Regions from separate parts of the Homo sapiens genome. Here all the other regions are linked to region 1. Evidence: fine-mapped expression QTL. A gene starts in region 1. Each other region holds a variant in brackets. All regions are shown on one strand. Distances are from middle to middle. Region 1 holds the start of TUBE1 (tubulin epsilon 1). Region 2 holds the start of LOC107986633 (a long non-coding RNA gene). Region 3 holds the start of CCN6 (cellular communication network factor 6).

What was found. PIP is the estimated chance that this variant, and not a neighbour inherited with it, causes the effect. A credible set is the group of variants that fine-mapping cannot tell apart.
Region 2: its variant is the best candidate, but not a certain one, in a credible set for the expression of TUBE1 in lung (TOPMed, PIP 0.59).
Region 3: its variant is the best candidate, but not a certain one, in a credible set for the expression of TUBE1 in adrenal gland (GTEx, PIP 0.69).

What each region holds. Positions count from the first base shown.
Region 1 is chr6:112,083,277-112,091,464 of GRCh38, reverse strand. TUBE1 (tubulin epsilon 1) reads left to right here and starts at 3,983. Exons shown (of 12, transcript NM_016262.5): 1 at 3,983-4,055; 2 at 4,159-4,232; 3 at 4,857-4,909; 4 at 7,219-7,276. The coding sequence starts at 4,031. FAM229B (family with sequence similarity 229 member B) reads right to left here and starts at 3,874. Exons shown (of 4, transcript NM_001033564.3): 1 at 3,745-3,874. RefSeq lists enhancers at 3,814-4,003, 3,738-4,269, 4,404-4,453.
Region 2 is chr6:112,111,097-112,119,284 of GRCh38, reverse strand. It overlaps LAMA4 (laminin subunit alpha 4), which reads left to right. Exons shown (of 39, transcript NM_001105206.3): 34 at 1-129; 35 at 1,387-1,546; 36 at 3,292-3,422; 37 at 4,529-4,622; 38 at 5,090-5,209. LOC107986633 (a long non-coding RNA gene) reads right to left here and starts at 3,296. Exons shown (of 2, transcript XR_001744299.2): 1 at 2,858-3,296. RefSeq lists silencers at 5,612-5,812, 5,792-5,992. The variant T/A (reference allele first, on the strand shown) is at 4,576.
Region 3 is chr6:112,050,621-112,058,808 of GRCh38, reverse strand. It overlaps CCN6 (cellular communication network factor 6), which reads right to left and starts at 4,705. Exons shown (of 5, transcript NM_198239.2): 1 at 4,404-4,705. The coding sequence starts at 4,451. The variant C/T (reference allele first, on the strand shown) is at 5,068.

The sequences.
Region 1 (8,188 bases):
TTTAAGGTTTCTCCACTCAAGATACGGGGAATGTGAATTAGTCCTAGCCCTATGTGAACCCTAGGAATTGTTCTGCCCGCTTATTTCCAGTGGTTCTTTCCTCAGTCTTACATAGTTTCCATGAATCCATGCAAGGATCAGCACTCAGTTTAGGCTCATGAGGAACTCCTTAAAGATTTTCAGAGCTTTGTTTTTGCATACTCTCTAACAAATAAAGAAACAGATAAAGAAAATGTGGTATATATACACAATGGAATACTATTCAGCCTTAAAAAAGAAGAAAATGCCGTCATTTGTGACAACATGGATAAACCTGGAGGACATTATGCTAAGTGATATTAGCCAGCCACAGAAAGAGAAACACTCCACTTAGATGTGGAATCTAAAAAAGTCAAGCTCATAAAAGTAGAGAGTAGAATGGTGGTTACCAGAGGGTAGCAAAGCTGGAGGGTGGGACAGGGATAGAGATCAGAAAGATGTCCAACGGATACAATAAGTTTCAGTTAGGAGGAATAAGTTTTATAGATCTATTACATAGCATGGTGACTAGTTATTAATAATATATATTTCAGAACTGCTAAAAGAGCAGATTTTAAATGTTCTCATCACAAAAAAATTCTGAGTATGTGAAATGATGGATATGTTAATCAGATTGATTTAATCATTCCACAATGTAAATATTTATCAAAAAATCAACTGTACCCCATTAATATACACAATAATTAATCAATTTAAAATCAAACAAATCAAAAATGGACCAAATAATGGCAGATCATCAGCCTGAGTGCCAGAAGGGGGATAACATAAAGCATAGCCCCCAGACACCCCTCAATGGACATGTATCATGTACAAAAAAAAAATTGTTGTTTTACACCACTGAGATTTTGGGGTTGATTGTTACCACAGCACAACAAAGTTTATGCTGATGTATACAGACTTTGGTCCAGACTTAGGTACCGCTATAACAAAAATCTAAAATATAAGTCACCATACCTAAGTGGTCAAGCAGCAATTAACAAGGAAACTGTTGTGGAAAGCTAAAAGGATAGTGATCTATGTCACCCAGGAACAAACCTATTGGGAAAAATCTTTGGAAAACTCTGTGATAACCTAGAAGGCATGTGATTTAACTAATGAATTTAAATGTTGGGAGAAGAGGCTGGAAAACAATAACATGTCAGTTGCTACTGTTTGTCAAGTTATATGAGAAAGAGATGAGCTCAGAAATGGCGGTGTGCAAGCAAGAATAAAAACAGACCACCCACAACTCTGAATTATATTTTAATGACAACTTACAAAAGCTACAGAATAATTTTCTTCTAAAACATTTTATTCCCCTTCAGAACTTTGCAGCATGTTTTCAATGCCTTCCAGTACTGAATGTGCTATATAGATGAGTCTAAAGTACTCTAATTAATTGTTTTTTCTTCATCCCACTCCCCCGTTCATTTCATGCCTAGGTACCTAAAAAATTCTCTCTTTATTCTGAAAAGTTGAATGCCTTAATGAGGCTGCATGTCTTGGTGTTGATTTTTCTATAAATTGTCCTATAGAACATAGTGTGTATCCTTTTAATCTATGTATTTTTCTTCCTTTTTTTTTATCAAGTACATTTTTTCCTCCATTTGCTGTGGGCACATGTTAATCTTATGTTGAGCCATCTTTGTCTCCTTCATACATATTATTTTTAATAACTTTCATATCTCTGGGTTTTGCCTAGTATTGTTATTATTTTAAGACTTTCCTCTACATTATAATTTGATGTGCATCTCTCTAGTCTGCTTCTTAAATGCTTTTAAAAATTATTTCTTTAAGTCCTTTAAGGTGGATGTTGTTGTCTTCAGTTAATTTCCTTAGTTCTTTTATCTCCATTTTATTTCATTTATTCATCAAATATTTATTTACTATCTACTATATGCAAGGTACTATCCCTAGTAGTGGATAAAACAACAAGACTCAGCCCTCATAGAGCTTGAGTCTTATTATTTTAGTATCTTGTCTTTAAGTTCCTGTTTTATTGCATTCATATTCTTAAGTTCTTCTTCAGCACAAAGTAGATATGATGAATTTTCTTTTCTCCCCTCTTAGGCTAGGTTTTACCCCAAGGTCTTGTACTTTATCCATCTTTTACATCGTTCCTTCCTTCCTCTCCCCCTTCCCTCCCTCTCTCCCTTCCATCCTTGTCTTCCTTCCTTCAATTTTAGGAGTCCATAGGATTCCCAATAATTTTTTTCTTTTTCATTTTCAGCATGTGGAATTCTGTTCACTCTATTTGCTCTGTATGTTGGTCAGCTATCACTACAATAAAACTGCACCCCAAAATTTCAGTAATTTCAACCAAAAACATTTCTCTTGCTTATAATATTCTGAATAGCCCGCTGCGGTTCAACCGATCTCAACTTGGCTCACCCGGGTTTGCATATACGGAAGTTTTGGAGTGGCTGGCATGTGAGGCTCTACCTTGCTTGGCTCTTAAGCAGAACTGTCTCTCAGTCTGATTCTCTAGAGACTGAAGTTATTAATAAGATGTGTTAGGACTTTTCTTTCCTGTGTGGGGAATAATGACTGGGACTGCATGAAGGGTAGGGCTCTGCAAAGGCCAGTGTATCATCTCACCTAGCACTGATAACACACTGATACAGACCTATTCACATCACTGCCTACAAACTGGACCAAGACTTGCAAATTTTGGAAGCCCCAGACGTTGGGACTTTAGCATCAAGACCTAAAATGCCCAACTTTACCTCTACCACTGACCCCATACTCAGTAAGAAGTTAAGAATAAATCCAGCCTACAAAAATTTACTGACCGAAAGCTGCCTATTACCAAAAGATATAAAATCCATTGCAACTTTAAACCTACCGGCTACCAGAGAAATTTAATAGTAACTACTACGTGTCTTGGTGGGACAATAAAGTGTTCTAATCCATTGAATATTACAGTTCATATTAGCACATATTCATAGCACATACCATATAACTTTTTATTAAACAAAGAAGACTTCTTAGAGTTTCGTAGTTCTTCAGAATTTTTGTGGAAAATATTAATTTCATTAAAGAAGTACTTGAGTTCTTAATTAAAATCTGGTCTAATTTGATCAATAGAAGTTTACATATTTTAATGTTTGACAATTTTAAGTAGTTGGTAATTGTCATAATGCCTAACTTTTTAATCTTCTCCTGCCTATCCCATCTAAATACCCATCTAAATGCCTAGTGTTAATCTCGTGTCTTCTATCAGACTTCTACATACTCATCTACATCCTCAACCACTGAATCCTATTGCACTTATAGTCAACGCCACACAATTCTTTAAGTATTTCGCGTGTATGTCTTCAATTAGATTGTAAGCTTCTTGGAACTGGATCTATGCCTTAATTTCTTTCTAATCTTCCCAGCGAGCCTACAAGTTAATTTGGGGAGTATACAGCGTTCAACAAATACTGGTTGGGTCTGTGACCTTAGCTTTGCCATTTTTGTCAAAGCGTATAACCATCTAGTTTCAATTGTGCCCTGACATGACTATTTCTCTGGGGTTTCTCTTTGCTCAACGCCATTGTTCATTTTCTATTAGAATAAAGGGCTTGTTGAACAGAGATGCCAACGCAGCGTCCCGTGGAATCTGAATAAACGGACTGATCCACCGCCCCGGGTGTTGAGGCTGTGAACAAAAATTAAACCTCTGATAGCCCACGAACAGCTTAACGACACATATTTTAAAATACCACTCCAAAGCCTAGTTACCTGCCAGTTACCCCGGCCTCCGGAGCTGCCGATGCTCGAAGATGTTGACAAGGCAGCTAGGATATACAGTCCAGAAGCCCAGTCGCTACGGTAACGGTGACACGCAAGTGCACTTGCGCGGCCTTCTGACGGAAAACCTTAGCCTGAACCTACAGACGTGCTTAGCGACGGCAGAGGCTTGCGGCAGTAGCGTGACTTACGGCAGCTCTCTAGCAGAGCGCCGTTGCTGGGGGAATGCAGAAGCGGCCGCGGGCTAGCAAGCTCCCGGAGCCGGCGGCGCACCACCATGACCCAGTCGGTGGTCGTACAGGGTAAGCTACGCCGGGCGGGTAGAGACCTGGTCGCCGCGGAATCCAGCGGCCATGTTTCCTGCTTAATGTCCTATTCTCTTTCCTTCCTCTCCTCCGGTCGCAGTCGGCCAGTGCGGAAACCAGATCGGCTGCTGCTTCTGGGACCTGGCACTAAGGGAGCACGCCGCGGTCAACCAGGTACCCGCCCGCCGCCGCGAGCCCCCTCGCCTGTCAGCTAGGTCTTCCAGCCCATACGCAGGAAATAATCGACTTGAGCTTTCATCTGACCCGTTTAAGATGCATGGGATCTTCCCAGTAAAGAACGTACTGGTTTTTAAACATGTTGCGTCAGACACACACTAAACTAAAAGAACACTGGCCAGCGACCTTAGTCTTAACGTTTTTCCTGATTCTCAGGGTCTCCTCTTTATTGGTGTTCGTGTGCAGAACAGTGAGATTTGTATATGGGAAAGTACTTTGTAAAATAGATAACACGTGTGGTTATTGTATTCCTTAATTTAACCAGTCAGCTTTTAAAAAGATTACGAAGAATCCAGAGAACGCTCATTTGATGGACCTGTCCTACAGTCCTATGGGTGAAATCCTTTCTTTAGCACCCCCTGCTGAACTTTTTATCTGTAGATCTGGCATTTACTCTTCTAAGGAGATTGGGAAGAGTCAGGCTCCGCATTTTGTGATACTTGGTTTTTCTTATCAGAGTCTCATCCTAGCCATTACAGTATTATGTAATTAAAATTGAAAGAACTTGATTTGGGCGAGAAGCAAAACCTAAATGCTATTAACATATGTTTTTCTTTTTAGAAAGGAATTTATGATGAGGCAATAAGCAGCTTCTTTAGAAATGTGGACACCAGGTAAGATGGGATTAAAGTCTGTCACAGTGTGATACTTTAAGTTTCAGTAGCTTGGGAGAGAATTCTTCAAAGGACAATAAAAATAGCCAGCTGCGAAGTTGTGTTTTTTTGTTTCATTATTGAAAGCATATTTATTCTATTAGATTATTAATATTCTTATATCATTTTCCCGAAGAAGACAACAGATTTCCCTTTAGTGTGACTTCTTTTAACTTAACCTTGAAATAAGTTTCATTAAAAGAAAGCTGAAATTTTCCCAGAGGGCATCTTGTTAATGCATCCTGTAATAACTAACTTTTGAAAGAAAAATATATTGTTTACATATATGCTGTAAGTATAAAAATATACTTAAAAAGGTGACAAGCAGTTGTTGGATTGTTTTTGTTTATTTAATAAAGAGTATATGTAAGTACCATATATGTTTTATCTGGAAGAGTAATTTAAGTTGCCGTTTAGGATATCTCCATAAGCTTTTAATATTAAATCATTAAGTTCATGCATTTTCAAAATACTTCATAAAACTAACTGTCCTGTGCTTAAACTGAAAAATACATACTTCGTGTCAGGCTTTAATCCAATAGGAACATCAGTTCTAGTTTAAAATAGTTGGCTGGGTGTGTGAGCAGTTATCTTCAGAGAAAGCTGATTAGTCCGCGCTTCCTGGGTGAATTCCAGAGTCTATCTAGGGCACTGGCTTGCAAACTCAGAAGTGTCATTGGCATCTCGAGATGGGTTCAGTGCTCTCCAGTACAGCCAGGTTAACCAAAGACCAAATTCTCATTTTCATAGGCACATTACTTTATCTTTTGTAGGAAATCTAACTGAAAAGCTGTGTAATAATCTGAAGGTTGCTTGGTGACCATGGAATCAGACCAAAGGAAGTTAGTTACTTTAATGGCTGGTATCATTTATATTTATTTTATGGAGATATCTGTCATATAGACTATAGATTCCCTCTTATTTGTAGCCCACAATATCCTCACCTCTAAATTCTCTTAGGAGACTCAAATTTGCTTCTGTCATACTTCCTTTCCGGCGCTTCTCTTGCTAAGTTCCTACACCCACCTCTTTACTTCTTGTTACCCAACGCTTACATTGAGTATTACATAGTTGAGACTCAGCCTGGGAGCTTTTCTTTCTTCATAAGGTGACTCTTCATAACTACACTCTCATCTACTCTGTGTGTTTTATACTTTAACCTGAGAGCACTATTATTTTCCCGGTAAGTTTGGCAAACAGGGTTGTGGCATCTTGCACTTCTTTCTGTGTACTATCAACACATGCAGCATCTGTTCCACAGCTTAGTACAAAAAATATTTTTCAAAGTAAAACCATATCTTTGTGTACTATTCTTATCAAATTTTTATACCTTTTGAGTAGCATGATAGGAATTTACCTACAGCATGGGTTGGCATGCATATATTTTCTGTAAAGGACCAGGCAGTAAATATTTTAGGTTTTGTGAACCATAAAGTCTTTTGCACCACTACTTGATCTGTAGCATGATTGTGGGCATAGGTAATACATAAAGGAATGGGTGTGTCCACATTTGAATAAAATTTTATTTAGGAAAACAGGCAGCTAGTTGAATTTGGCCTGATGATTGGCTACCCTTCATATATTCCGTCTTGTGAACTGTCTTTATTGACCCATATACTGCGTTAGATTTTAGTACTTTGGCAACTTATTTCCAACGTGAAATTCTGAGAACAACCTTAGATACTCAATGGTAAATACCAGTTATATCAGTTGATGGGTGTTAACTGCAATAGAAAACTACATTAATGGTGGCTGAGGCAGTAAAGGTATTCATTTATCTCACAAATCTGCAAATCAGATGTTCTAGGTTTAAAGGAATGCCTCAAAGATCTAATACTATATATGTTCCACTGTCCATAAGTGTGTTGGCTTTTTGTACTTGTATTATTACTTCATGACTATAAAATGGCAGTCTTCTCCAGGAATCACATCCATATTCAAGTTTGAGGCAGGAAAAAGAAAGAAGATAGGCACCAACTGCATCTGGTCCTTCTTTAAAAGCTTCCCAGAATACTTCCCCTTTATCTCATTGGCTAGAACTGGATTACATGGCCAGCCCTAACTACAAAGAAAGCCAGGAAACTAAGTACCTCACTTTTTCAGCCTAATGGGAGGTAAGCAAGGAAGAAAGAGATTAGGAATAGCTGTTGTGTCTGCCTTACCTGGCCTATAAGCAGTCTTATTATATAAATGGAAGTTAACTTTATCACCTGATAGTGCTATTAGCCATGGAAGATCTTATGACCATTTCTCATTTTTTTATCTTTCAGAGTGGTTGGTGATGGTGGAAGTATTTCCAAGGGAAAAATATGTTCTTTAAAAGCACGAGTAAGATACATATGCTTGGATTCTTATATTACATGTATTTTTTAAATAACTATTCTCAGTAACTATCATGAGAATAAAACTTTAAACTTTTCAAAGTAGAAAAAAATTACTAAGCCACATTTAATATAAATATAACTAAGCAGACATTTGTGTCCACCTAACACATTAGGGGGAAAAGCCCATACTTTAAAACACTGTAGTTAGCCTGTTTTCAGGAGAAATAGTGTCTAGATAAATGATAACAAAAGGAGCATTCTTAACTCTAAGGACCTGAAATACGTACTAGTACAGTTTAATGTTTTATTTAAAGATACTGGAAGATTTATTTGCATCAAAGTTACTACCAATAAAAAACATGGAACCAGCCACATTGTAGTGAATAAAAACCATTCACCATATAAGTTCTCCTGAACCAAGTACTTCAGGTTCTTAGCCCATATTTACAGTCTTATTTACAGTCTTAATCATTCCAACAATATTTCTGTGATTGTCTGTAACGAACTACTTTTTCTGATTTTTGATCAGTGATCTTTGACTATAATAGAAAAGAAAGTTTAAATGTTATGGAAGGTGCTGGGCGCGGTGGCTCACGCCTGTAATCCCAGCACTTTGGGAGGCCGAAGCGGGCAGATCACAAGGTCAGGAGATCAAGACCATCCTGGCTAACATGGTGAAACCCCGTCTCTACTAAAAATACAAAAAATTAGCTGGGCGAGGTGGCGGGCACCTGTAGTCCTAGCTGCTCGGGAGGCTGAGGCAGGAAAATGGCGTGAACCCCGGGGGGCAGAGCCTGCAGTGAGCCGAGATCGCGCCACTGCATCCAACCTGGGCGACAGCGGGACTCCGTCTCAAAAAAAAAAAAAAAAAATGTTATGGAAGGAATTGAGATGCCAAGGATCAGACCTGGTGTAG
Region 2 (8,188 bases), 28 kb before region 1:
GGCCGACTGGTAATTGATGGTCTCCGAGTCCTAGAAGAAAGTCTTCCTCCTACTGAAGCTACCTGGAAAATCAAGGGTCCCATTTATTTGGGAGGTGTGGCTCCTGGAAAGGCTGTGAAAAATGTTCAGGTAAGCCAGGCATGACCAGGTAGAGCCATTGACCATTAGAGCCAGAAGATCATCTAATTGAGGCCCTCGTCTCACAGATTAGGAAACTAGAAACTAGCACCAGTAAAACTGTAGTTTTCTGGAAATGGGATATCAAAGTAAGTACTGTCTTATGGGCTGCCTGTCTGCCCTGTGGCATTACAAAGTCAGAAGTAATCTTTCAATTCTAAGGTAGATGTCAAATGAAAAAGTTTCAGAGGCATAAATTATCATGAAAATTTATGTCTCAAGGAGATCTTATTTGTTCAGGAAGTACCCATACTTTTAATGTAAAGACATAACAAAAAAGAAAGCAAATCATTGCATTATACATTATTGAGTGAAAAAAAAAGTTTCAGGTCATTATGCAAACTACAATCCCATTTTTCTTACACACACACACACACACACACACATACACACACACACACACAATTTGTAAATGTATAAGGAAATGTGGTTGCCCTGGGGAGAAGTGAGAATATAGTAGAAAAATATTATTTGTGTAATTTAAAAATTAAAAATATTGCACTTATAAAAAATTTAGCAATAAAAGGAATGCATCAAAGGACTAAATTTTTCTTAACATAAATATAGGTTGGATTTTAGCAATGTTAAAAATAATTTCTAAGACCTATTAATATATGTAGATGAAGCAAAAAAGATGGTTTACATTATAATTAGATTTTAGATAAGCAGCCCCAATTCCATGGCAATCTCTTTTTTAAAATGTCCAAATGCAGGACAAAATCAGTTATCTTAAGTGGCCCAAGTTTCATGTCCTGTGATATGATAAATTCTCAACCACAAAAACAGCTCATGAAACCAGAAATGAAAGCTTTCTGCTGTTTATTTGGCTATGGTAGATTTAAGTAAAGAACTTTGCTAGCCCTCATCAGCCTTAGGTGATCTTGGCACAGCTGTCATTCTTGAGGGAAAACTAGGATACTTCTAAATATGCAGTTTGAAAACCACAGCTGCAACTTATTGTGTCAAAGTGTAACATAAAAATGTCCATAGCTTAATTACTACAGGTTGACATTATCAAATACAAAATTCCAGCTTCAAACAACCAGTTAGAAAGCAACTATCCAGGAAAGTACTGATCATTCAGATATCTGAAATAAATGAAACAAGGAATTACGTGGGTTCCTTCAGGACTCAAACCCCCTCATTTTGCTTCCCCTTGGTGCATTTGTGTTGAGAAAATTGATTTTAAGAAATATCTTCTTCCCTCAGATTAACTCCATCTACAGTTTTAGTGGCTGTCTCAGCAATCTCCAGCTCAATGGGGCCTCCATCACCTCTGCTTCTCAGACATTCAGTGTGACCCCTTGCTTTGAAGGCCCCATGGAAACAGGAACTTACTTTTCAACAGAAGGAGGATACGTGGTTCTAGGTAACATTAGTCATGTTAAAAATATGAGTCATGAAATGCTTCTTCCTGGAGATGGCTAACAGGGAATATCAGGCCCAGAGTTAAAACTTAAGAATGCCAAACTCAGCCCTAGAAGATGACCTCTTCCCACAAGAACCACCTTTCTCCCTCCTGCACTCCAAACCATACATGCAGTCCCCATCCCTGTATACTCTCCCTGACCAGGCTTCTCCACAGCTGCCAAACTTCTGGATGAAGACCACCTGGGCTCCTTTAGAATGTCTATGCTGCTCCGTGGCCTGATCCATGTCAGTTTTTGGCCACCTTGCTCCTCAAGGTCTTGCTCTGCTCCTTCTTGGCATGAACCATTGTCCTACTAAAGGAAGTCCCACTTTCTCCCCATGACTTGCAACACCAGCAGACAACGTTATCCTTCAGAAATTTTTATTTCTGGCTTTTTATTATTCTCCTTGACCATTACTCCCTCACTCATTCAGTTTTTATTGTATGCCTCCCATAAGGCAGTCCCTATGCCAGATGATGGGACATAACAGTTCTAAAAATAAATAAAATCCTAGCAGACTACACACAATCATCATCTAATTCATTCCAAGAATATTCTATGGAGCAATCGCTGGGTGTGAGGAAGACACCAGAATAAGTGCCCGGAATTAGGATAGGAAAGGGTATAAAGCTGCATGTTCCCTCCTCTCAAGGCACTTAGGTACTTTGCACATCCCCTGAATAAAGAAATTACACTGCAGCCAAGTTTACTTTTTAAACCACCACCATATCCAGCAGAACACCCAGAGGTAGTATTTCCTCTCTGCTTAGCTCATGATTTTACTTTCCTGCCTCACCCATCTTTACCCCTACACTAAAACACCTACACTTACAATTCTCAGCCTTTCATGGAATTTCAGTGATAAGAACTCTTAACAGTTTGGACAGCTGGGAATACAGAGCAAACTGCACAATTTATATACTACTCCATGAGCACTAACTAATAACAGGAAAAAATTTTAAATGATTTATAGGATACATTAAATGAACATTATTTAGATGCCCTGGTTTGCAATGAGTCTCTTGGAGTAAACACAACTATTCTTAATAAGAATTTTATTGGATCACCTCAGTAACAGCTCCTAAATACTTTCTCTGCTCTTTCTCCTCTGAAATGCTGTACAACACTGGCACCAGTTAGGTTTCTGTTTAATAATTATTTTAAAATACAGGTCCGATCAAGACAGCTGTCTTGCTCAGTGACTGTAAAATAAAGCCTAACTTCCATACTTCACCACTAGAGCCCTTCCCAGTGTGGCTCCCACTCACCATGCCTCCTTCTCCCCTGGCAGGGACAGTCCAGCCACAGTGGCCTTCACAGTGCTCTCCAAGCATTCCAGCCTCTGTACCTGTGTTGAGTCTACTTCCTCTGCCCAGATTGCCCTGTCCTCCTCACTTGTGAAATACTCAGTAGTGCTGCTGCTACTTGGAATTAATTTCTCCTCCCCTGAGCTCCCATAACACATATTTTGTGTGCTGTTGCCAGCCTCACACCCCACAACAGGATTGATGCATTAGTTATCTTGGTTCCCCACAGAGCTTTCCACAGTGAGTTTGACATGGAAAAGCCACTTTCTACTTATCTGTTAAAAAATGCATCAAACTTTCAAAAACAGATAAAAATATATATAATTACAAAATCACACCATAGTTACAAATATGATCTTGCTGTTCTTGGGAGTTTATAGTGTTTCTCTCCACAGATGAATCTTTCAATATTGGATTGAAGTTTGAAATTGCATTTGAAGTCCGTCCCAGAAGCAGTTCCGGAACCCTGGTCCACGGCCACAGTGTCAATGGGGAGTACCTAAATGTTCACATGAAAAATGGACAGGTAGTGTCTGAAAAATGTTTAACAATTTGTCTCATCTGACCTTGGATTCTAGATCTGAAGCAGATTTATTTCACAGAATTATTTCATCAATCTTTCCTAACTGAAAAGAAATATAGGAAAGCTATAACATGAAATGTAAATGTGGGCAATATTTGGATTCAGCTTCCTATGTTGAAAGTTGATTTGGTTAAAACAAAGAGTCATAAAAATATGGCAAAACTATCAAAAAAATCACTAATAACAACACAGTTTTAAGAGAAGAATGAGAAGAACTTTTTTTCACCAAATGGAATCAGCAAACATAACTATCAAAATCAACAAACACTAAAACATCTTTCTAAATATCTATAATATGTATGTATATCAGATATATGTATGTGTACTAGATATGTATATATACTATACATATTATTCTCAATTGATAGAAATAAAAAATTATGTTGTAATGCCACTTTCATCCTAAGATACTACTAAAGAATATTCATGGAAGTATTCAAATAAATATTAAGAAAAAAGTATATTTTCATTGATGCTGCTAACTTAACATAACAGATTTTTATTTGGGTTCTAGTACATTCTATTAAATTATATTGAGCCATCACAATAAAATGTATCCCTACTTGGTGTTTACTATTTGTTGGGTACTATTCTAAGCTTTACCTAGATTAACTCATTTAATCCTCCCAATTATCTCCATGATGTAGGTAACAGTATCGCTTATAATTTACAAACGAGAAAACTGGGGCAGAGAGTAAGTTAAATAGGAGACTGGCTGTCTAGCTTCAAAGTCCATGTTCTTCACCAATACTTCAACCTGCTTTGTATAACACACTCAATCTTTAGAAATTAAAGGGATTTATTCTATTTCTTATTGTCCCTCTCTCGCAATTTTCTCCCCTATGAAGTCACTTTGTTCTCTCCCCAAAGAGCACCCCCAGTTGAACCTATTTCTATAGGCTGCCAAAGACCCTTGTGTTCAAATTGCAAAGCTAATCATGTGTGAATATTTGTTGAAGTATTGCTTCACTGTGGTAAATTATTTAAGAAATTCAGTTTTATCACAATGAGGACAAACTAAATCATACAATGTGTCCTATCTTTTGCAGGTCATAGTGAAAGTCAATAATGGCATCAGAGATTTTTCCACCTCAGT[T/A]ACACCCAAGCAGAGTCTCTGTGATGGCAGATGGCACAGAATTACAGGTGAGAAAACTGACTGCCCTGGGGAGCCTGCACACCCAACTGTAAGATTATGATCTGGCAGAACTTAGGCTATCACTTATATGATAGGTAATGCATGACAGTCTAAAAGTATCCAAGAAAAGAAAATCATGTTATTATACTATTATGTGTATACTGAATCCACATGTGATTTCAAAATATGAACGCTGCAAAATTGTGTTAAGGGGTTGCTTCAATAATGCATAACTTATAGGGCAAAAAAAAGTAGCACAAGAATATTCTAAATATTCTCCCTTTCTAAGGAAAATGTTACAGTAATCTCTTGGTTAGACATTGTTAGACATCATTGATGATTTTAATAATATAGAAGAAAGTGTGGGTTTTATTCTGGAATAAATAAAAGCAATTGCTGTGATAAATAGTCTTTCTCAGGTTAAAAATTCATCACTCCAGTGCCACTTATGACCAGTCTTTGCCCTGCATTTCAGTTATTAGAGATTCTAATGTGGTTCAGTTGGATGTGGACTCTGAAGTGAACCATGTGGTTGGACCCCTGAATCCAAAACCAATTGATCACAGGGAGCCTGTGTTTGTTGGAGGTGTTCCAGGTAAGTGTTGTTTAAAAAGGAAAAGTTCCCAATCCAAAAAACTGAGTTCTCACAATTGTTATTGTAGAATTGAGCCATGTGTTTTTATGATGCACCTAGTTACTCAAAGGATTTTATATACAGTGTTGTTTAAATGGAAAAGGCATAATAAAGTGACATGTAAGAACTAGACCCCAGCATTCCAGCCAGTGGCTATTACTCTCCCTTGCCATATTTGCTTATTTTTTTCTTTCCTTTCCCTTTTAAGTGCCCGCCACACACATACACACAGTGACACACATACTCTTATTTTATCTCTAACACAAAGAAAACTCATTGACTAACACTACAGTAGGATCTGAGAACTTTGGAGGATTAAGTTTGCTGTTAGTTGCTCCCCTTCCTCAGTAGGAAAAAATGCACAGTTCGGTCCATGATTAGTCTGAACTGCAAAAACAGCTGCAGACCATAAGTTGTTGTCCATTGGTAGTGACATTCCCTCAGAGAGGTTCCCAGCTGCAATTCTGTAAACATCATCAGTCACTGCTGCTGTCATCTGCCAAGAATGGTGTATAATCCCGGATGGTGACAGGACACTTATGGACAACACACAAACACCCCAATTGTTTTAAACCTGTGAAGCAAGGACCATGTCCTCATATTGAATGCATTTGTTTTTACACATTTCACTAACTTGGAAAACCTGAATGCTATGGCTGGGGAGTGGGATTTAAAAGGGAAATAACCCAGCTTTTGCAGCTGGAACTTGGTGGGGAGTTTTTAATTGACATATCATAGTTGTACATATTTTGGGGGTACATGTGATATTTTGATACCTGTATACAATGTGTAATGATCAAATCAGGATAATTGCAATATCCACCACCTAAAACATTTATCTTTTCTTTGTGTTGGTAACATTACAATTCTTCTCTTCTAGCTATTTTGAAATGCACAATAAATTATCCTTAACTATAATTTCCCTATTGTACTATGAAATTCTAGAAATTATTCCTTCTATCTAACTGTATTTTTGTATCCATTAACCAAGTTATTTTCATCTCCTTCTTCCCCCTTCCCTTCCCAGCCTCTAGTAACTACCAACTACTCTCTACCTCTCTCCATGAGATTTACTTCTTAAGCTCATGTATGTGAGTGAGGACACATGATATTTGTCTTTCTGTGCTTGGCTTGGTGGAGATTTTAATAATCTTCTAATAGATTATTTTTAAACTGACCCATAAAGACAGACAATGCTTTAAAGAAGAGAGCAAGAAGCACAGATAAAATTAAGCATCTGACCTTGGGTACTCCAAAAATAGTAACAACTAAGCACTCTTCTTTGTCTGAATTTTTCAAATACTAGTATTGACAATAATAGTAACCCGGTGTGAAAAAAAATATTTGAGACCCTCGCAAAGCAACTCTTCTCCTTTGTCTCCTGCTTCCACTCCCCTCTCCATTCCCCAGTCCTCTCCCTGTTCCTGACTTCAGCTTTGAAAGGATTCTGGCAAAGGCCAGCACTGCACTTCATGCAGGTGCAGCATGAAAAAGTCTCACATGAGTGCATATTTCTGCACATTGCTTCCCTCCAGAAATCACAACACAGTTTAAAATGTTTCACAGGTTCCCAAGAGCCTCCAGGATTAAATTCACCATAGCATGCAAGCTCCCTGATCATCTGTCTCCTCCTTGTCCCTGCCTTCGGGATCTCCCCACACCTTCTGGGACTTGCAGTTCCTAAATGTTCAACGATGGTATCTTTGCTCCGGGCCTTTCCATAAGGGAACTGGGCCTCAATTTCTGGGAAATGTTCTTCCTTTCCTCCCCTAGTACCTTTGTTAAGAAACAACTTCTCCTATTCCTCCCCATTCTAACTCCTATTGACCTTTAGGACTCAGCTCAGACTTTTACTTACAACACGCCCCTTTCCCCCTAGGATGTATACACATACTGCTGTTGTAGCACTTAGCACAGAATATTGTTGAAACTAAGAAGTGCATTCCTTGATGGCAGGGAACATGACTATATCCAACACACAGCATGGATTGTCTATTAAGCATTGTGCTAGGCTTTGGGAGGTGGACAAAACAAGCATGGCCCTCCCTCATGGAAGTTGGAGTATTTGTCCTTCACTATGCCACCCAACGTACTTACTACATCTTTCAAACAGATATTTCTCTTTGGTTTTTGTTTGTTTGTTTGCTTTCACAGTCTGATCCCAGCCTCACACACTGCCATCATCCCTCACTACAAGAGTTGCTAAGCCCTACAGACTGGACAGGCAAGATGTACCTAAAGCCAAATTCAGCCTGCCTGAAACACAGAATGAATAGCAAACTTTAGTTAATGAGCCAGCACAGGAGCTAGCAGGCCAGAAGGGCGTAACCACCAGCCCACTGCACCACTGCAGCTTTTAAGTCCATCTAAGAATTATGCCAGCAAGCCTAGAATAAAAGCAACTATACTTTAAGATGAAATGTAATTAATTATATCATTTTGAGCTGTTCAAGATTAATTCCACTAAAATCACATCAGAAACCAGGCATTAAGAGGATAGCTAAAGAAATTAGGCTAAATAAAACCCCTAAATGCACTGAATTCTCCAAGAATACCACTCAGAACTCTGGTGACTCATTATTTCTATCCATAAAAAGCTAACGCATAAAATTCCTAGAACTACACACCAAAAAAGTCAACTTTAGTGTGTGATAGTTTTAAAATCAAAATTAAAAATCAAAGAATTTTTTTTCTGCCGGACATGGTGGCTCGCGCCTGTAATCCTAGCACTTTGGGAGGCCAAGGTGGGTGGATCACTTGAGCTCAGGAGGTGGAAACCAGCCTGGCCAACATGGCAAAACCCCATCTCTATTAAAGATACAAAAAATAGCTGAGTGTGGTGGTGAGTGCCTGTAATCCCTCCAGCTACTCAGGAGGCTGAGGCAGCGGAATCGCTTGAACCCAGGAACTGGAGACTATAGTGAGCACAGATCACACCGC
Region 3 (8,188 bases), 33 kb after region 1:
CCTACAGGAAATGTGCAAGCACTTATGCACAGCATTCAGGGCCCTCCTCGTGTCTTGCAGTTCTTGTATGCATTAGGTTCCAGAAAGTTAAAGTGCCTGTAGTTCCCTGCATATATGATGCTGTTCCTCCTGCCTGGGACATTCTGCCCAGACCCAGCTCCTTCTTCATCTAGTTAAAGGATACTTCAAGGTTCTGTTTCAGTATCATCTTTTCCAGAAAGGTTCCTATAACTTCCCTGCCTTGCACACATTTTTAAACTGAAATTACCCATGTAAGTGCCTATCTCTTCCACTAGCCGTAAAGCCACCCAACCTCAGGTGCTTGTGGTTTGTTTGTGAGTATACCACCAGCACCTAGCACAGTGCCTGGCAATTTGCTTATGTAAATAACTCTTAATGTTTATTTGATGGAACCAGGGACTGTTGAATTGATTACTAGATCTAAGTCCATTTGCAGCTCAAAAATTCTACATTTAGAAGTATCTGTAGGAAATTCCACCCAATATTAAACCCTCAGCCTTTTTTCTTACTACTGGTAAAACACATATGCCTCAGTAAAGAGTAACGTTTCAGCTGTGATTCAAAAGTTACATGCACAACGTGAGAATGGGTTTTGATGGGGAGGATAGGACACTGCTGGGCTTCTGGAGAAGGAGCAGGGGAAAAGGAAACATCAAAATGGAGAAGGGAGTAGAAATAGTGAAGCTAGAATCCTAAAAAAATTTTAAACTTAAAAAAATTTTGCCTCCATCTCAGTTTTGCACAGGTTCAGCTATAGCCACCAGTGATTCAGGATGCCAGGTTCAGTGGCCTCTTTGCTGGTCTCACATCCGTGAACCCTCTTCAGTCCTCCTCTTGCCCCACCTCTCTAAGGCATTTAACTCTCCTCTACCTTGGATTTCATTACATCTGGTCCCCCCAGTCCTCCCCTTACTTTTCAACGCACTTTCTCAATCTCCTCCGCAGGCTCCTGTTACCCTGAATTTGACTTAAATTTAGGCCTATTGGTGTTTCATAGCTTTAATGTATTGCTTGCCTCATTCTACACTGTGTCTTGGCAATCTCACCCACACCCTTGCCTTCAGTTTTCATCCTATGCAAGTTTCAAAACTAAATTTCCAGCCTGGACTTCTCCACTGAGCCCTGGACCCGTGAGATAACTACCTACTGGACATCTCCACCCAAATGTCCTCCAGGAAATACTCAAGTCCAAAAGTCATCATTTTTCACTCTTCAAAGTTTGGAGTCAGGAAGCTGGATTCATCTGGGTTGTCTTCCTCCCTCTCACCTCCTATGACGATTCAGTGACCCTCTCCTATGTATTGTATTGTCCTCGTCTTCCCAGAACTAGATGCTTTTCCCCATTTCATTGCTACTAAGTAAGCACCGTCACTACGAGTTCCTGACTGACCTTCCTCCCTCCAGAATGACTTTTCAAGTGCATCTACTATGTTGCTCCTGGAGGAATCTCTTTAAAGAACATGTCTGGTTGTATTACTCCTCTCCTTAAAGCCCATCAGGGGTTCCCCATAGTCCATACTGTGCAGCCTAAACTTCTGAGCCAGTTATCCAAAGCCCTCTCCTGCCTACCTCTTGAGCTTTAGCTCTCACACACTCTCCTTCCATGACTTGCCATTTGCTGGACTCCCTGGGTTGGTTTTCTCCTCCCTGCTTTTTCATGTGTTCTTTCTAATGAAATGCACACTCCCAAAACTGCCCCCGGATGCCTCTTTAACTTTCCAATTTTGAAGCATTTCCAGATAATCTCTGAGGTCAAAAGGTAACACTGTTGAAATCCAAGGATAAAGAGAAAATCATAACAGTAGACTGAGAAAAGCATTACATACTGAATTACATGAAAAATGAGATCTGACTTCTCATCAAAAGACGGAGGAGGAGGAAGAGATTGAGAAGAAGATGTGCAAAGACAATGTTGAAAGGAAAAAAAAACAACCTGTCAACCCAGAATTATATGGCCAGTGAAACCATCTTTCAAAAATGAAGCTGAAATAGCCTGTAATCCCAGCACTTTGGGATGCCGAGGCAGGTGGATCACTTGAGGCGGGGAGTTCAAGACTAGCCTGGCCAACATGGCAAAACCCCATCTCTACTAAAAATACAAAAACTTAGCCAGGTGTGGTGGCGTGCACCTGTAGTCCCAGCTACTCAGGAGGCTGAGACAGGAGAATCGCTTGAACCCAGAAGGCAGAGGTTGCAGTGAGCCAAGACACGCCACTGCACTCCAGCCTAGGCAACAGAGGGTGATTCCATCTCAAAATAAAGAAAATCATAACAGTAGACTGAGAAAAGGGGGAAGCATTACATACAGAAGTACAATAAAACTGAGATCTGACTTCTCATCAAAAGAAGGAGGAGGAGGGAGAGATGGAGAAGAACAAGATGCCCAGAGACAATGTTAAACGGAGAAAAAAAAAAATCCTGTCAATCCAGAATTATATAGCCAGTGAAACTGTCTTTCAAACATGATGGTGAAATAAAAACCGTTTCTGGGTAAACAAAACCTAAGAGAAATTGTTGCTAGCTGATCTGCCTCACAAGAAATACTAAAGGAGGATCTTCGGTCTGAAGATCTTCTGTTATGATAGTAACTTAGAAATACAGGAAGAAATGAAGAGGCCTGGACATAGTCAATATGTGGGTAAATATAAAGAATCTTATATTTTTCACTTTTCCTCAGGCATATTTTGATTGTTTTCAACAGCAAAATTTCAGGACAATAAGCATCACTAGAATGGTGCAATAGAAAGAATAAGCATTTTGACAACAGATCCGAGCTTTGCAACAGCTCTGTGATCTTACAGAACTTCCCATCATTTGATCTCCTCTGTAATATGGGATTAATAATGACCACCTTGTAAAGTTGTTTTGATAATTAAGATAATAACTAAAGCACCCTTGGGCCGGAGGTGGTGGCTCACACCTGTAATCCCAACACTTTGGGAGGCCGAGGTGGGCGGATCACTTGAGGTCAGGAGTTCAAGACCAGCTTGGCCAACAGGGCAAAACCCTATCTCTACTAAAATACAAAAATTGGCAAGGCATGGTGGTGTAGGCCTGTAATCTCAGCTACTTGGGAGGCTGAGGCACAACAATCGCTTGAACCCAGGAGGTGGAGGTTGCAGTGACCCAAGACTGCACCACTGCACTCCAGCCTGGAACGACAGAGCAAGGCTCTGTCTCTAAATAAATAAATAAATAAATAAATAAAGCACCCAGCACAGTATTTGGCATATAGCAGCTATTCAGTAAATGCTAGGTATTATCAGCTATTTCATGAATTTATGAATTCATAAAAGCAAAGTTAAGCACAAAATAATCCATTTTTACCGCTCTTTGTGTAACACCTTTCTGTGTTTGTTGTTGTTTATTTTGTACACATCTCTCTGTGTTGGAATACCTGCTGTCTAAGAACATCTAGCTGCTCTCAATCCACAATGACAGGCTTTTTCTCAAGAACAGTGGAATAGGAGGCACACAGACAGGGGAGTGAGCCCCTCCACAGAACAGCAGCAATGACCTGGACCACTGACATTCTTGTCATGATTCTTTTGAAATCGTAAATCTCTCTCTATATGGTATAACAATTTGCAATTCCTTGTTTTCTAAGATGTATCTACTACTTATGGCCCCAATCAACTACTAACTCACAGACACACCCATGTTTCCTAAATCACCAGATTTCAAAAGCTCTGTCTCCTGTCTACCGTGTAAATAAATCAACAATTAAGTCACCTTGTTTTCATCTTCTTATTTAAAAAGACTAAGGCAATGAATTGCTCATAGTAAGTTAAACTTCCCTTTGGTCTGTTGCTTGAAATATTTCCAAGCCTCCATGGACTGCTTCCCTTTCAGGAAGTGAGAAACACATGGACTGAGAAAAGACAAAGTAAGAGAATGTTTTAAAAATGTAAATGTTTATTCCAAAGTGCCCCTTTCAAAGAAGGACAGACTTAACTGGAAAAAGTCGCTGTCAAAATTCGTTTTTCCAGGGGCTCTTTGCACATTTTGCAAACAGCAATGGAAAGTTGAGCCTCCGCCTGGAGCTGGCATGGAGAGACACTGTTTCCCGCACTGTGCCAGGCTGTGCCTTAGGCTCTGCTATAAAAATATATAGGAAAGCGTGGCGCTGTTCAAACATAGCGAAAGGAGGCTTCGGTGCCATTACCTGAAAGGGAGAAATGTTTTACATTTCTTTCATGAAGCTCATGAACGAACACAGAACTTTATTTGGAAAGAAAAATGGCTTCCTATTTCTCATGAAGTAGTTCCACAAGCCATTGATCCTCCCTCTTCCTCCATCTTCGTTTTGTTTAGTTTTGGGCCTGAAGAACTAAGGATGGCCATAGCCTCCGGAAGGGAAAGAGTCGGGGGAGAGGACTTACCTGTGCCAGGCCAGCAAGCAGAAGAGTGGAGAAGAGGAGCCCCTGCATGTCGCTGGGACCGTGGAGCCACCCTGAGGGGTAGAGAAGTCGCCGCTTGTTCATTGCTCCGGGTACACAAAGCTCCCCTGTCTCCTCTGCAAACCCCACGCTCCTCTGCACAAGAACACACACCCTCTACCTCCCACACTACCAACTTTCAGCCTGCACTTTCATTTTTAAGGATCCGTTTTAATACCCTGTTTACTTTCATGGGACTCTTCTAATAACCTGCCTTCGCAGTGAGCGTGTCACAGGTCAGGAATGGGCGAGCACTTTCCTCCCGGGACTCAGGAGGGCAGGGCAAGTAGTGACTGTTCTCTAAGTGACTGTGTTACCTGTTCCTGGAGAGCAGAGCCTGCCCCCGACAACGGGTGGGGTCCCACGTCATTCCCTTCCTTGCCCTCAGCTTCTCCATCTGTGTTTGCCCTGCTCCGGGTCCTCTCTAGGCTGCTTCCTTCTCCAGCTTCACCCTCACGTACAGAGTGCAGGCCTGGCCCCCCCACCAACAGCACCCATCGCAGCCTAGCCCTGGCTTTCCCCCTCCATATTAATGGCAGGCTCTCGAAGGACCCTGACTCCCCCAGCTCAGATTCTCTCGGAGGCACCCACAGTGCCCTGGGCTCAC[C/T]TTTATCCCAACACCTTTCTCATGCCAGGTGGACTGTGAGTGGAAAAAATACAGATGGAGCAGGGGGCGGACTCCTACAGTACCTGGCCTGAGAGACGCCTCTTTTTGTGGCCACAGTTCCATGACAGATGACAATGAAGTTAACCTCCATTTTTCCGGGCCTAAAATAAAACAATTACACTGGTAGCAATCATTCATTTAATGAATTAAGATTAAAAATAAGCCTGGCCAATATGATGAAATCCCGTCTCTGCTAAAAAAAAAAAAAGACACAAAAATTAGCCAGGTGTGGTGGCAGGCGCCTGTAATCCCAGCTGCTTGGGAGGCTGAGGCAGGAGAATCGCTTGAACCTGGGAGGCGGAGGTTGCAGTGAGCCGAGATCGCACCATTGCACTCCAGCCTGGGGGACAAGAGTGAGAATTATTCTCAAAAAAAAAAAAAAGATTAAAAATAAAATTTTGACAGGTTTGTACTCCTCTTCTTCATACTCACCTCCCTGAAAGGTGTGACCACCAGCGCATCTCCTCCTGTGTCATCATGTGGGACCTTCGCTTCTCCATGTTCTCAGCCTGGGTCTGTGTTCCCATCTTCATTTGCAGCTGCCGTGGTGCTTTGTCCCTCTCAGGTCCCTGAGGCGTCCCACCTGCCTGCCCCCATCCCAAGGCCTATTTCTATTTCCTTTGATCAGTTACCTATCCCTCCTTTTCCTGCTGCCTTACCTATCCTATACCGATTGCTCACCTTTGTTACTGTTCAAGGCAGTCACTACTGTATAAAGACAACATCAAGCCTCGCTTAGGCCTGAGCTGAGGGCCTGGGAAAAACGAGGCTGTCCTCCACCACAGAGAATCTGGTGTCCTTGGAGAACCATGGACACCCTAAAACCTGCAGATCACACAGAGCTTACTAAGGAGTCATTAAACTGTAAGTATATGCACATCAAACAACAAGGAATACCCACTGCAGTTAGGATGCCAACGCCTTATCTTGCCTCCCTAAGAAATAGGACAAAACCAGATAATGGAGTAGTGAAGAAAATGTGTCTGTTTTGGTCCAATCTGATCTTTTTCTTTTCTTTTTTTTTTTTTATTATTATACTTCAAGTTCTAGGGTACATGTGCACAATGTGCAGGTTAGTTACATATGTATACATGTGCCATGTTGGTGTGCTGCACCCATTAACTCGTCCTTTAGCATTAGGCATATCTCCTAATGCTATCCCTCCCCCCTCCCCCCACCCCACAACAGGCCCCGGTGTGTGATGTTCCCCTTCCTGTGTCCCAGTGTTCTCACTGTAGAGAAGTCCTTAAATGACCTGATGGAGCTGAAAACCATGGCACGAGAACTACGTGATGAATGCACAAGCTTCAGTAGCCGATTCGATCAACTGGAAGAAAGGGTATCAGTGATGGAAGATCAAATGAATGAAATGAAGCGAGAAGAGAAGTTTAGAGAAAAAAGAATAAAAAGAAACGAACAAAGCCTCCAAGAAATATGAGACTATGTGAAAAGACCAAATCTACCTCTGATTGGTGTACCTGAAAGTGACGGGGAGAATGGAACCAAGATGGAAAACACTCTTCAGAATATTATCCAGGAGAACTTCCCCAACCAAGCAAGGCAGGCCAACATTCAAATTCAGGAAATACAGAGAACGCCACAAAGATACTCCTCGAGAAGAGCAACTCCAAGACACATAATTGTCAGATTCGCCAAAGTTGAAATGAAGGAAAATATGTTAAGGGCAGCCAGAGAGAAAGGTCGGGTTACCCACAAAGGGAAGCCCATCAGACTAACAGCGGATCTCTCGGCAGAAACTCTATAAGCCAGAAGAGAGTGGTGGCCAATATTCAATGCTCTTAAAGAAAAGAATTTTCAACCCAGAATTTCATATCCAGCCAAACTAAGCTTCATAAGTGAGGGAGAAATAAAATCCTTTACAAACAAGCAAATGCTGAGAGATTTTGTCACCACCAGGCCTGCCCTACAAGAGCTCCTGAAGGAAGCACTAAACGTGGAGAGGAACAACTGGTACCAGCCACTGCAAAAACATGCCAAATTGTAAAGACCATCAATGCTAGGAAGAAACTGCATCAACTAACAAGCAAAATAACCAGCTAACATCATAATGTGGATCAAATTCACACATAACAATATTAACCTTCACACTTAACAATATTAACCTTAAATGTAAATGGACTAAATGCTTCAATTAAAAGACACAGACTGGCAAATTGGATAAAGAGTCAAGACCCATCAGTGTCCAATCTGATCTTTGTCTTTTTATCTTCCTGGTTATCACCATTGGTCTGTGGGTACCAGCCTGTGATTCCCACACCACACCGGCTGTCAGGATGGATAATTTCATGTTTCTGGTTTGTCTATGAAAAGCAGAGGAGTCGCATCCCAACACTGGGGTATTCATCAACTGTATCTCTCCAGCTCCAGCTCTCCCCCGGTTCCACATATAGTAATGCACATATCAGTGCAATTTTTGAATTTAAGGAGTTTCACCCTCCTCCCGTTTGCTGTCTGTGAAATGCTGGCGGCAGCAGGCATTTTTCTGGAATCGTCTTCCATCCCTCTGCAGTCTCACTGACGTGGAGCAGGGGAAGATAGATGTTGACCATCCTTGCCTCTTGGTAGGAAAGGAACATCTTGCTTGAAAAGTGACCTGCAAAACCTCCCCCAGCTCCAGAACACACTGGCGCTGGGTTACTCACTCCCACATGTGTTTAGACATCTTTGGCTGTGGGAGCTCCTATTTAACTCTTTCCAGCCGACTGTGTGTGGACTCCATGGATATGGTAGTTTTAGAGGTCGGGGCTGCTATTTTTGACCTTACACAATAAGAGCTTTCACAGTGTGTGTCCTGTTCTGAGCATGTTTCCCTATTATCTCATTTAACAGAATGCTAATCTGTCTAGGAGCTCATTTCACAAGTGTTCAGTTTGTGATGTACGTTCCAATAGACATGGCGCTAAGCATAATTCAATGTGCACCATGTTCTATGATTTACAAAGAAGTTTCCTGTGTATTACATTTTTAATTTCACAGCTCAGTGAGGTGGGCAAAAGCAGTATTACCAACCTCATTTAACAGATTAAAAAGTGAAAGCTAA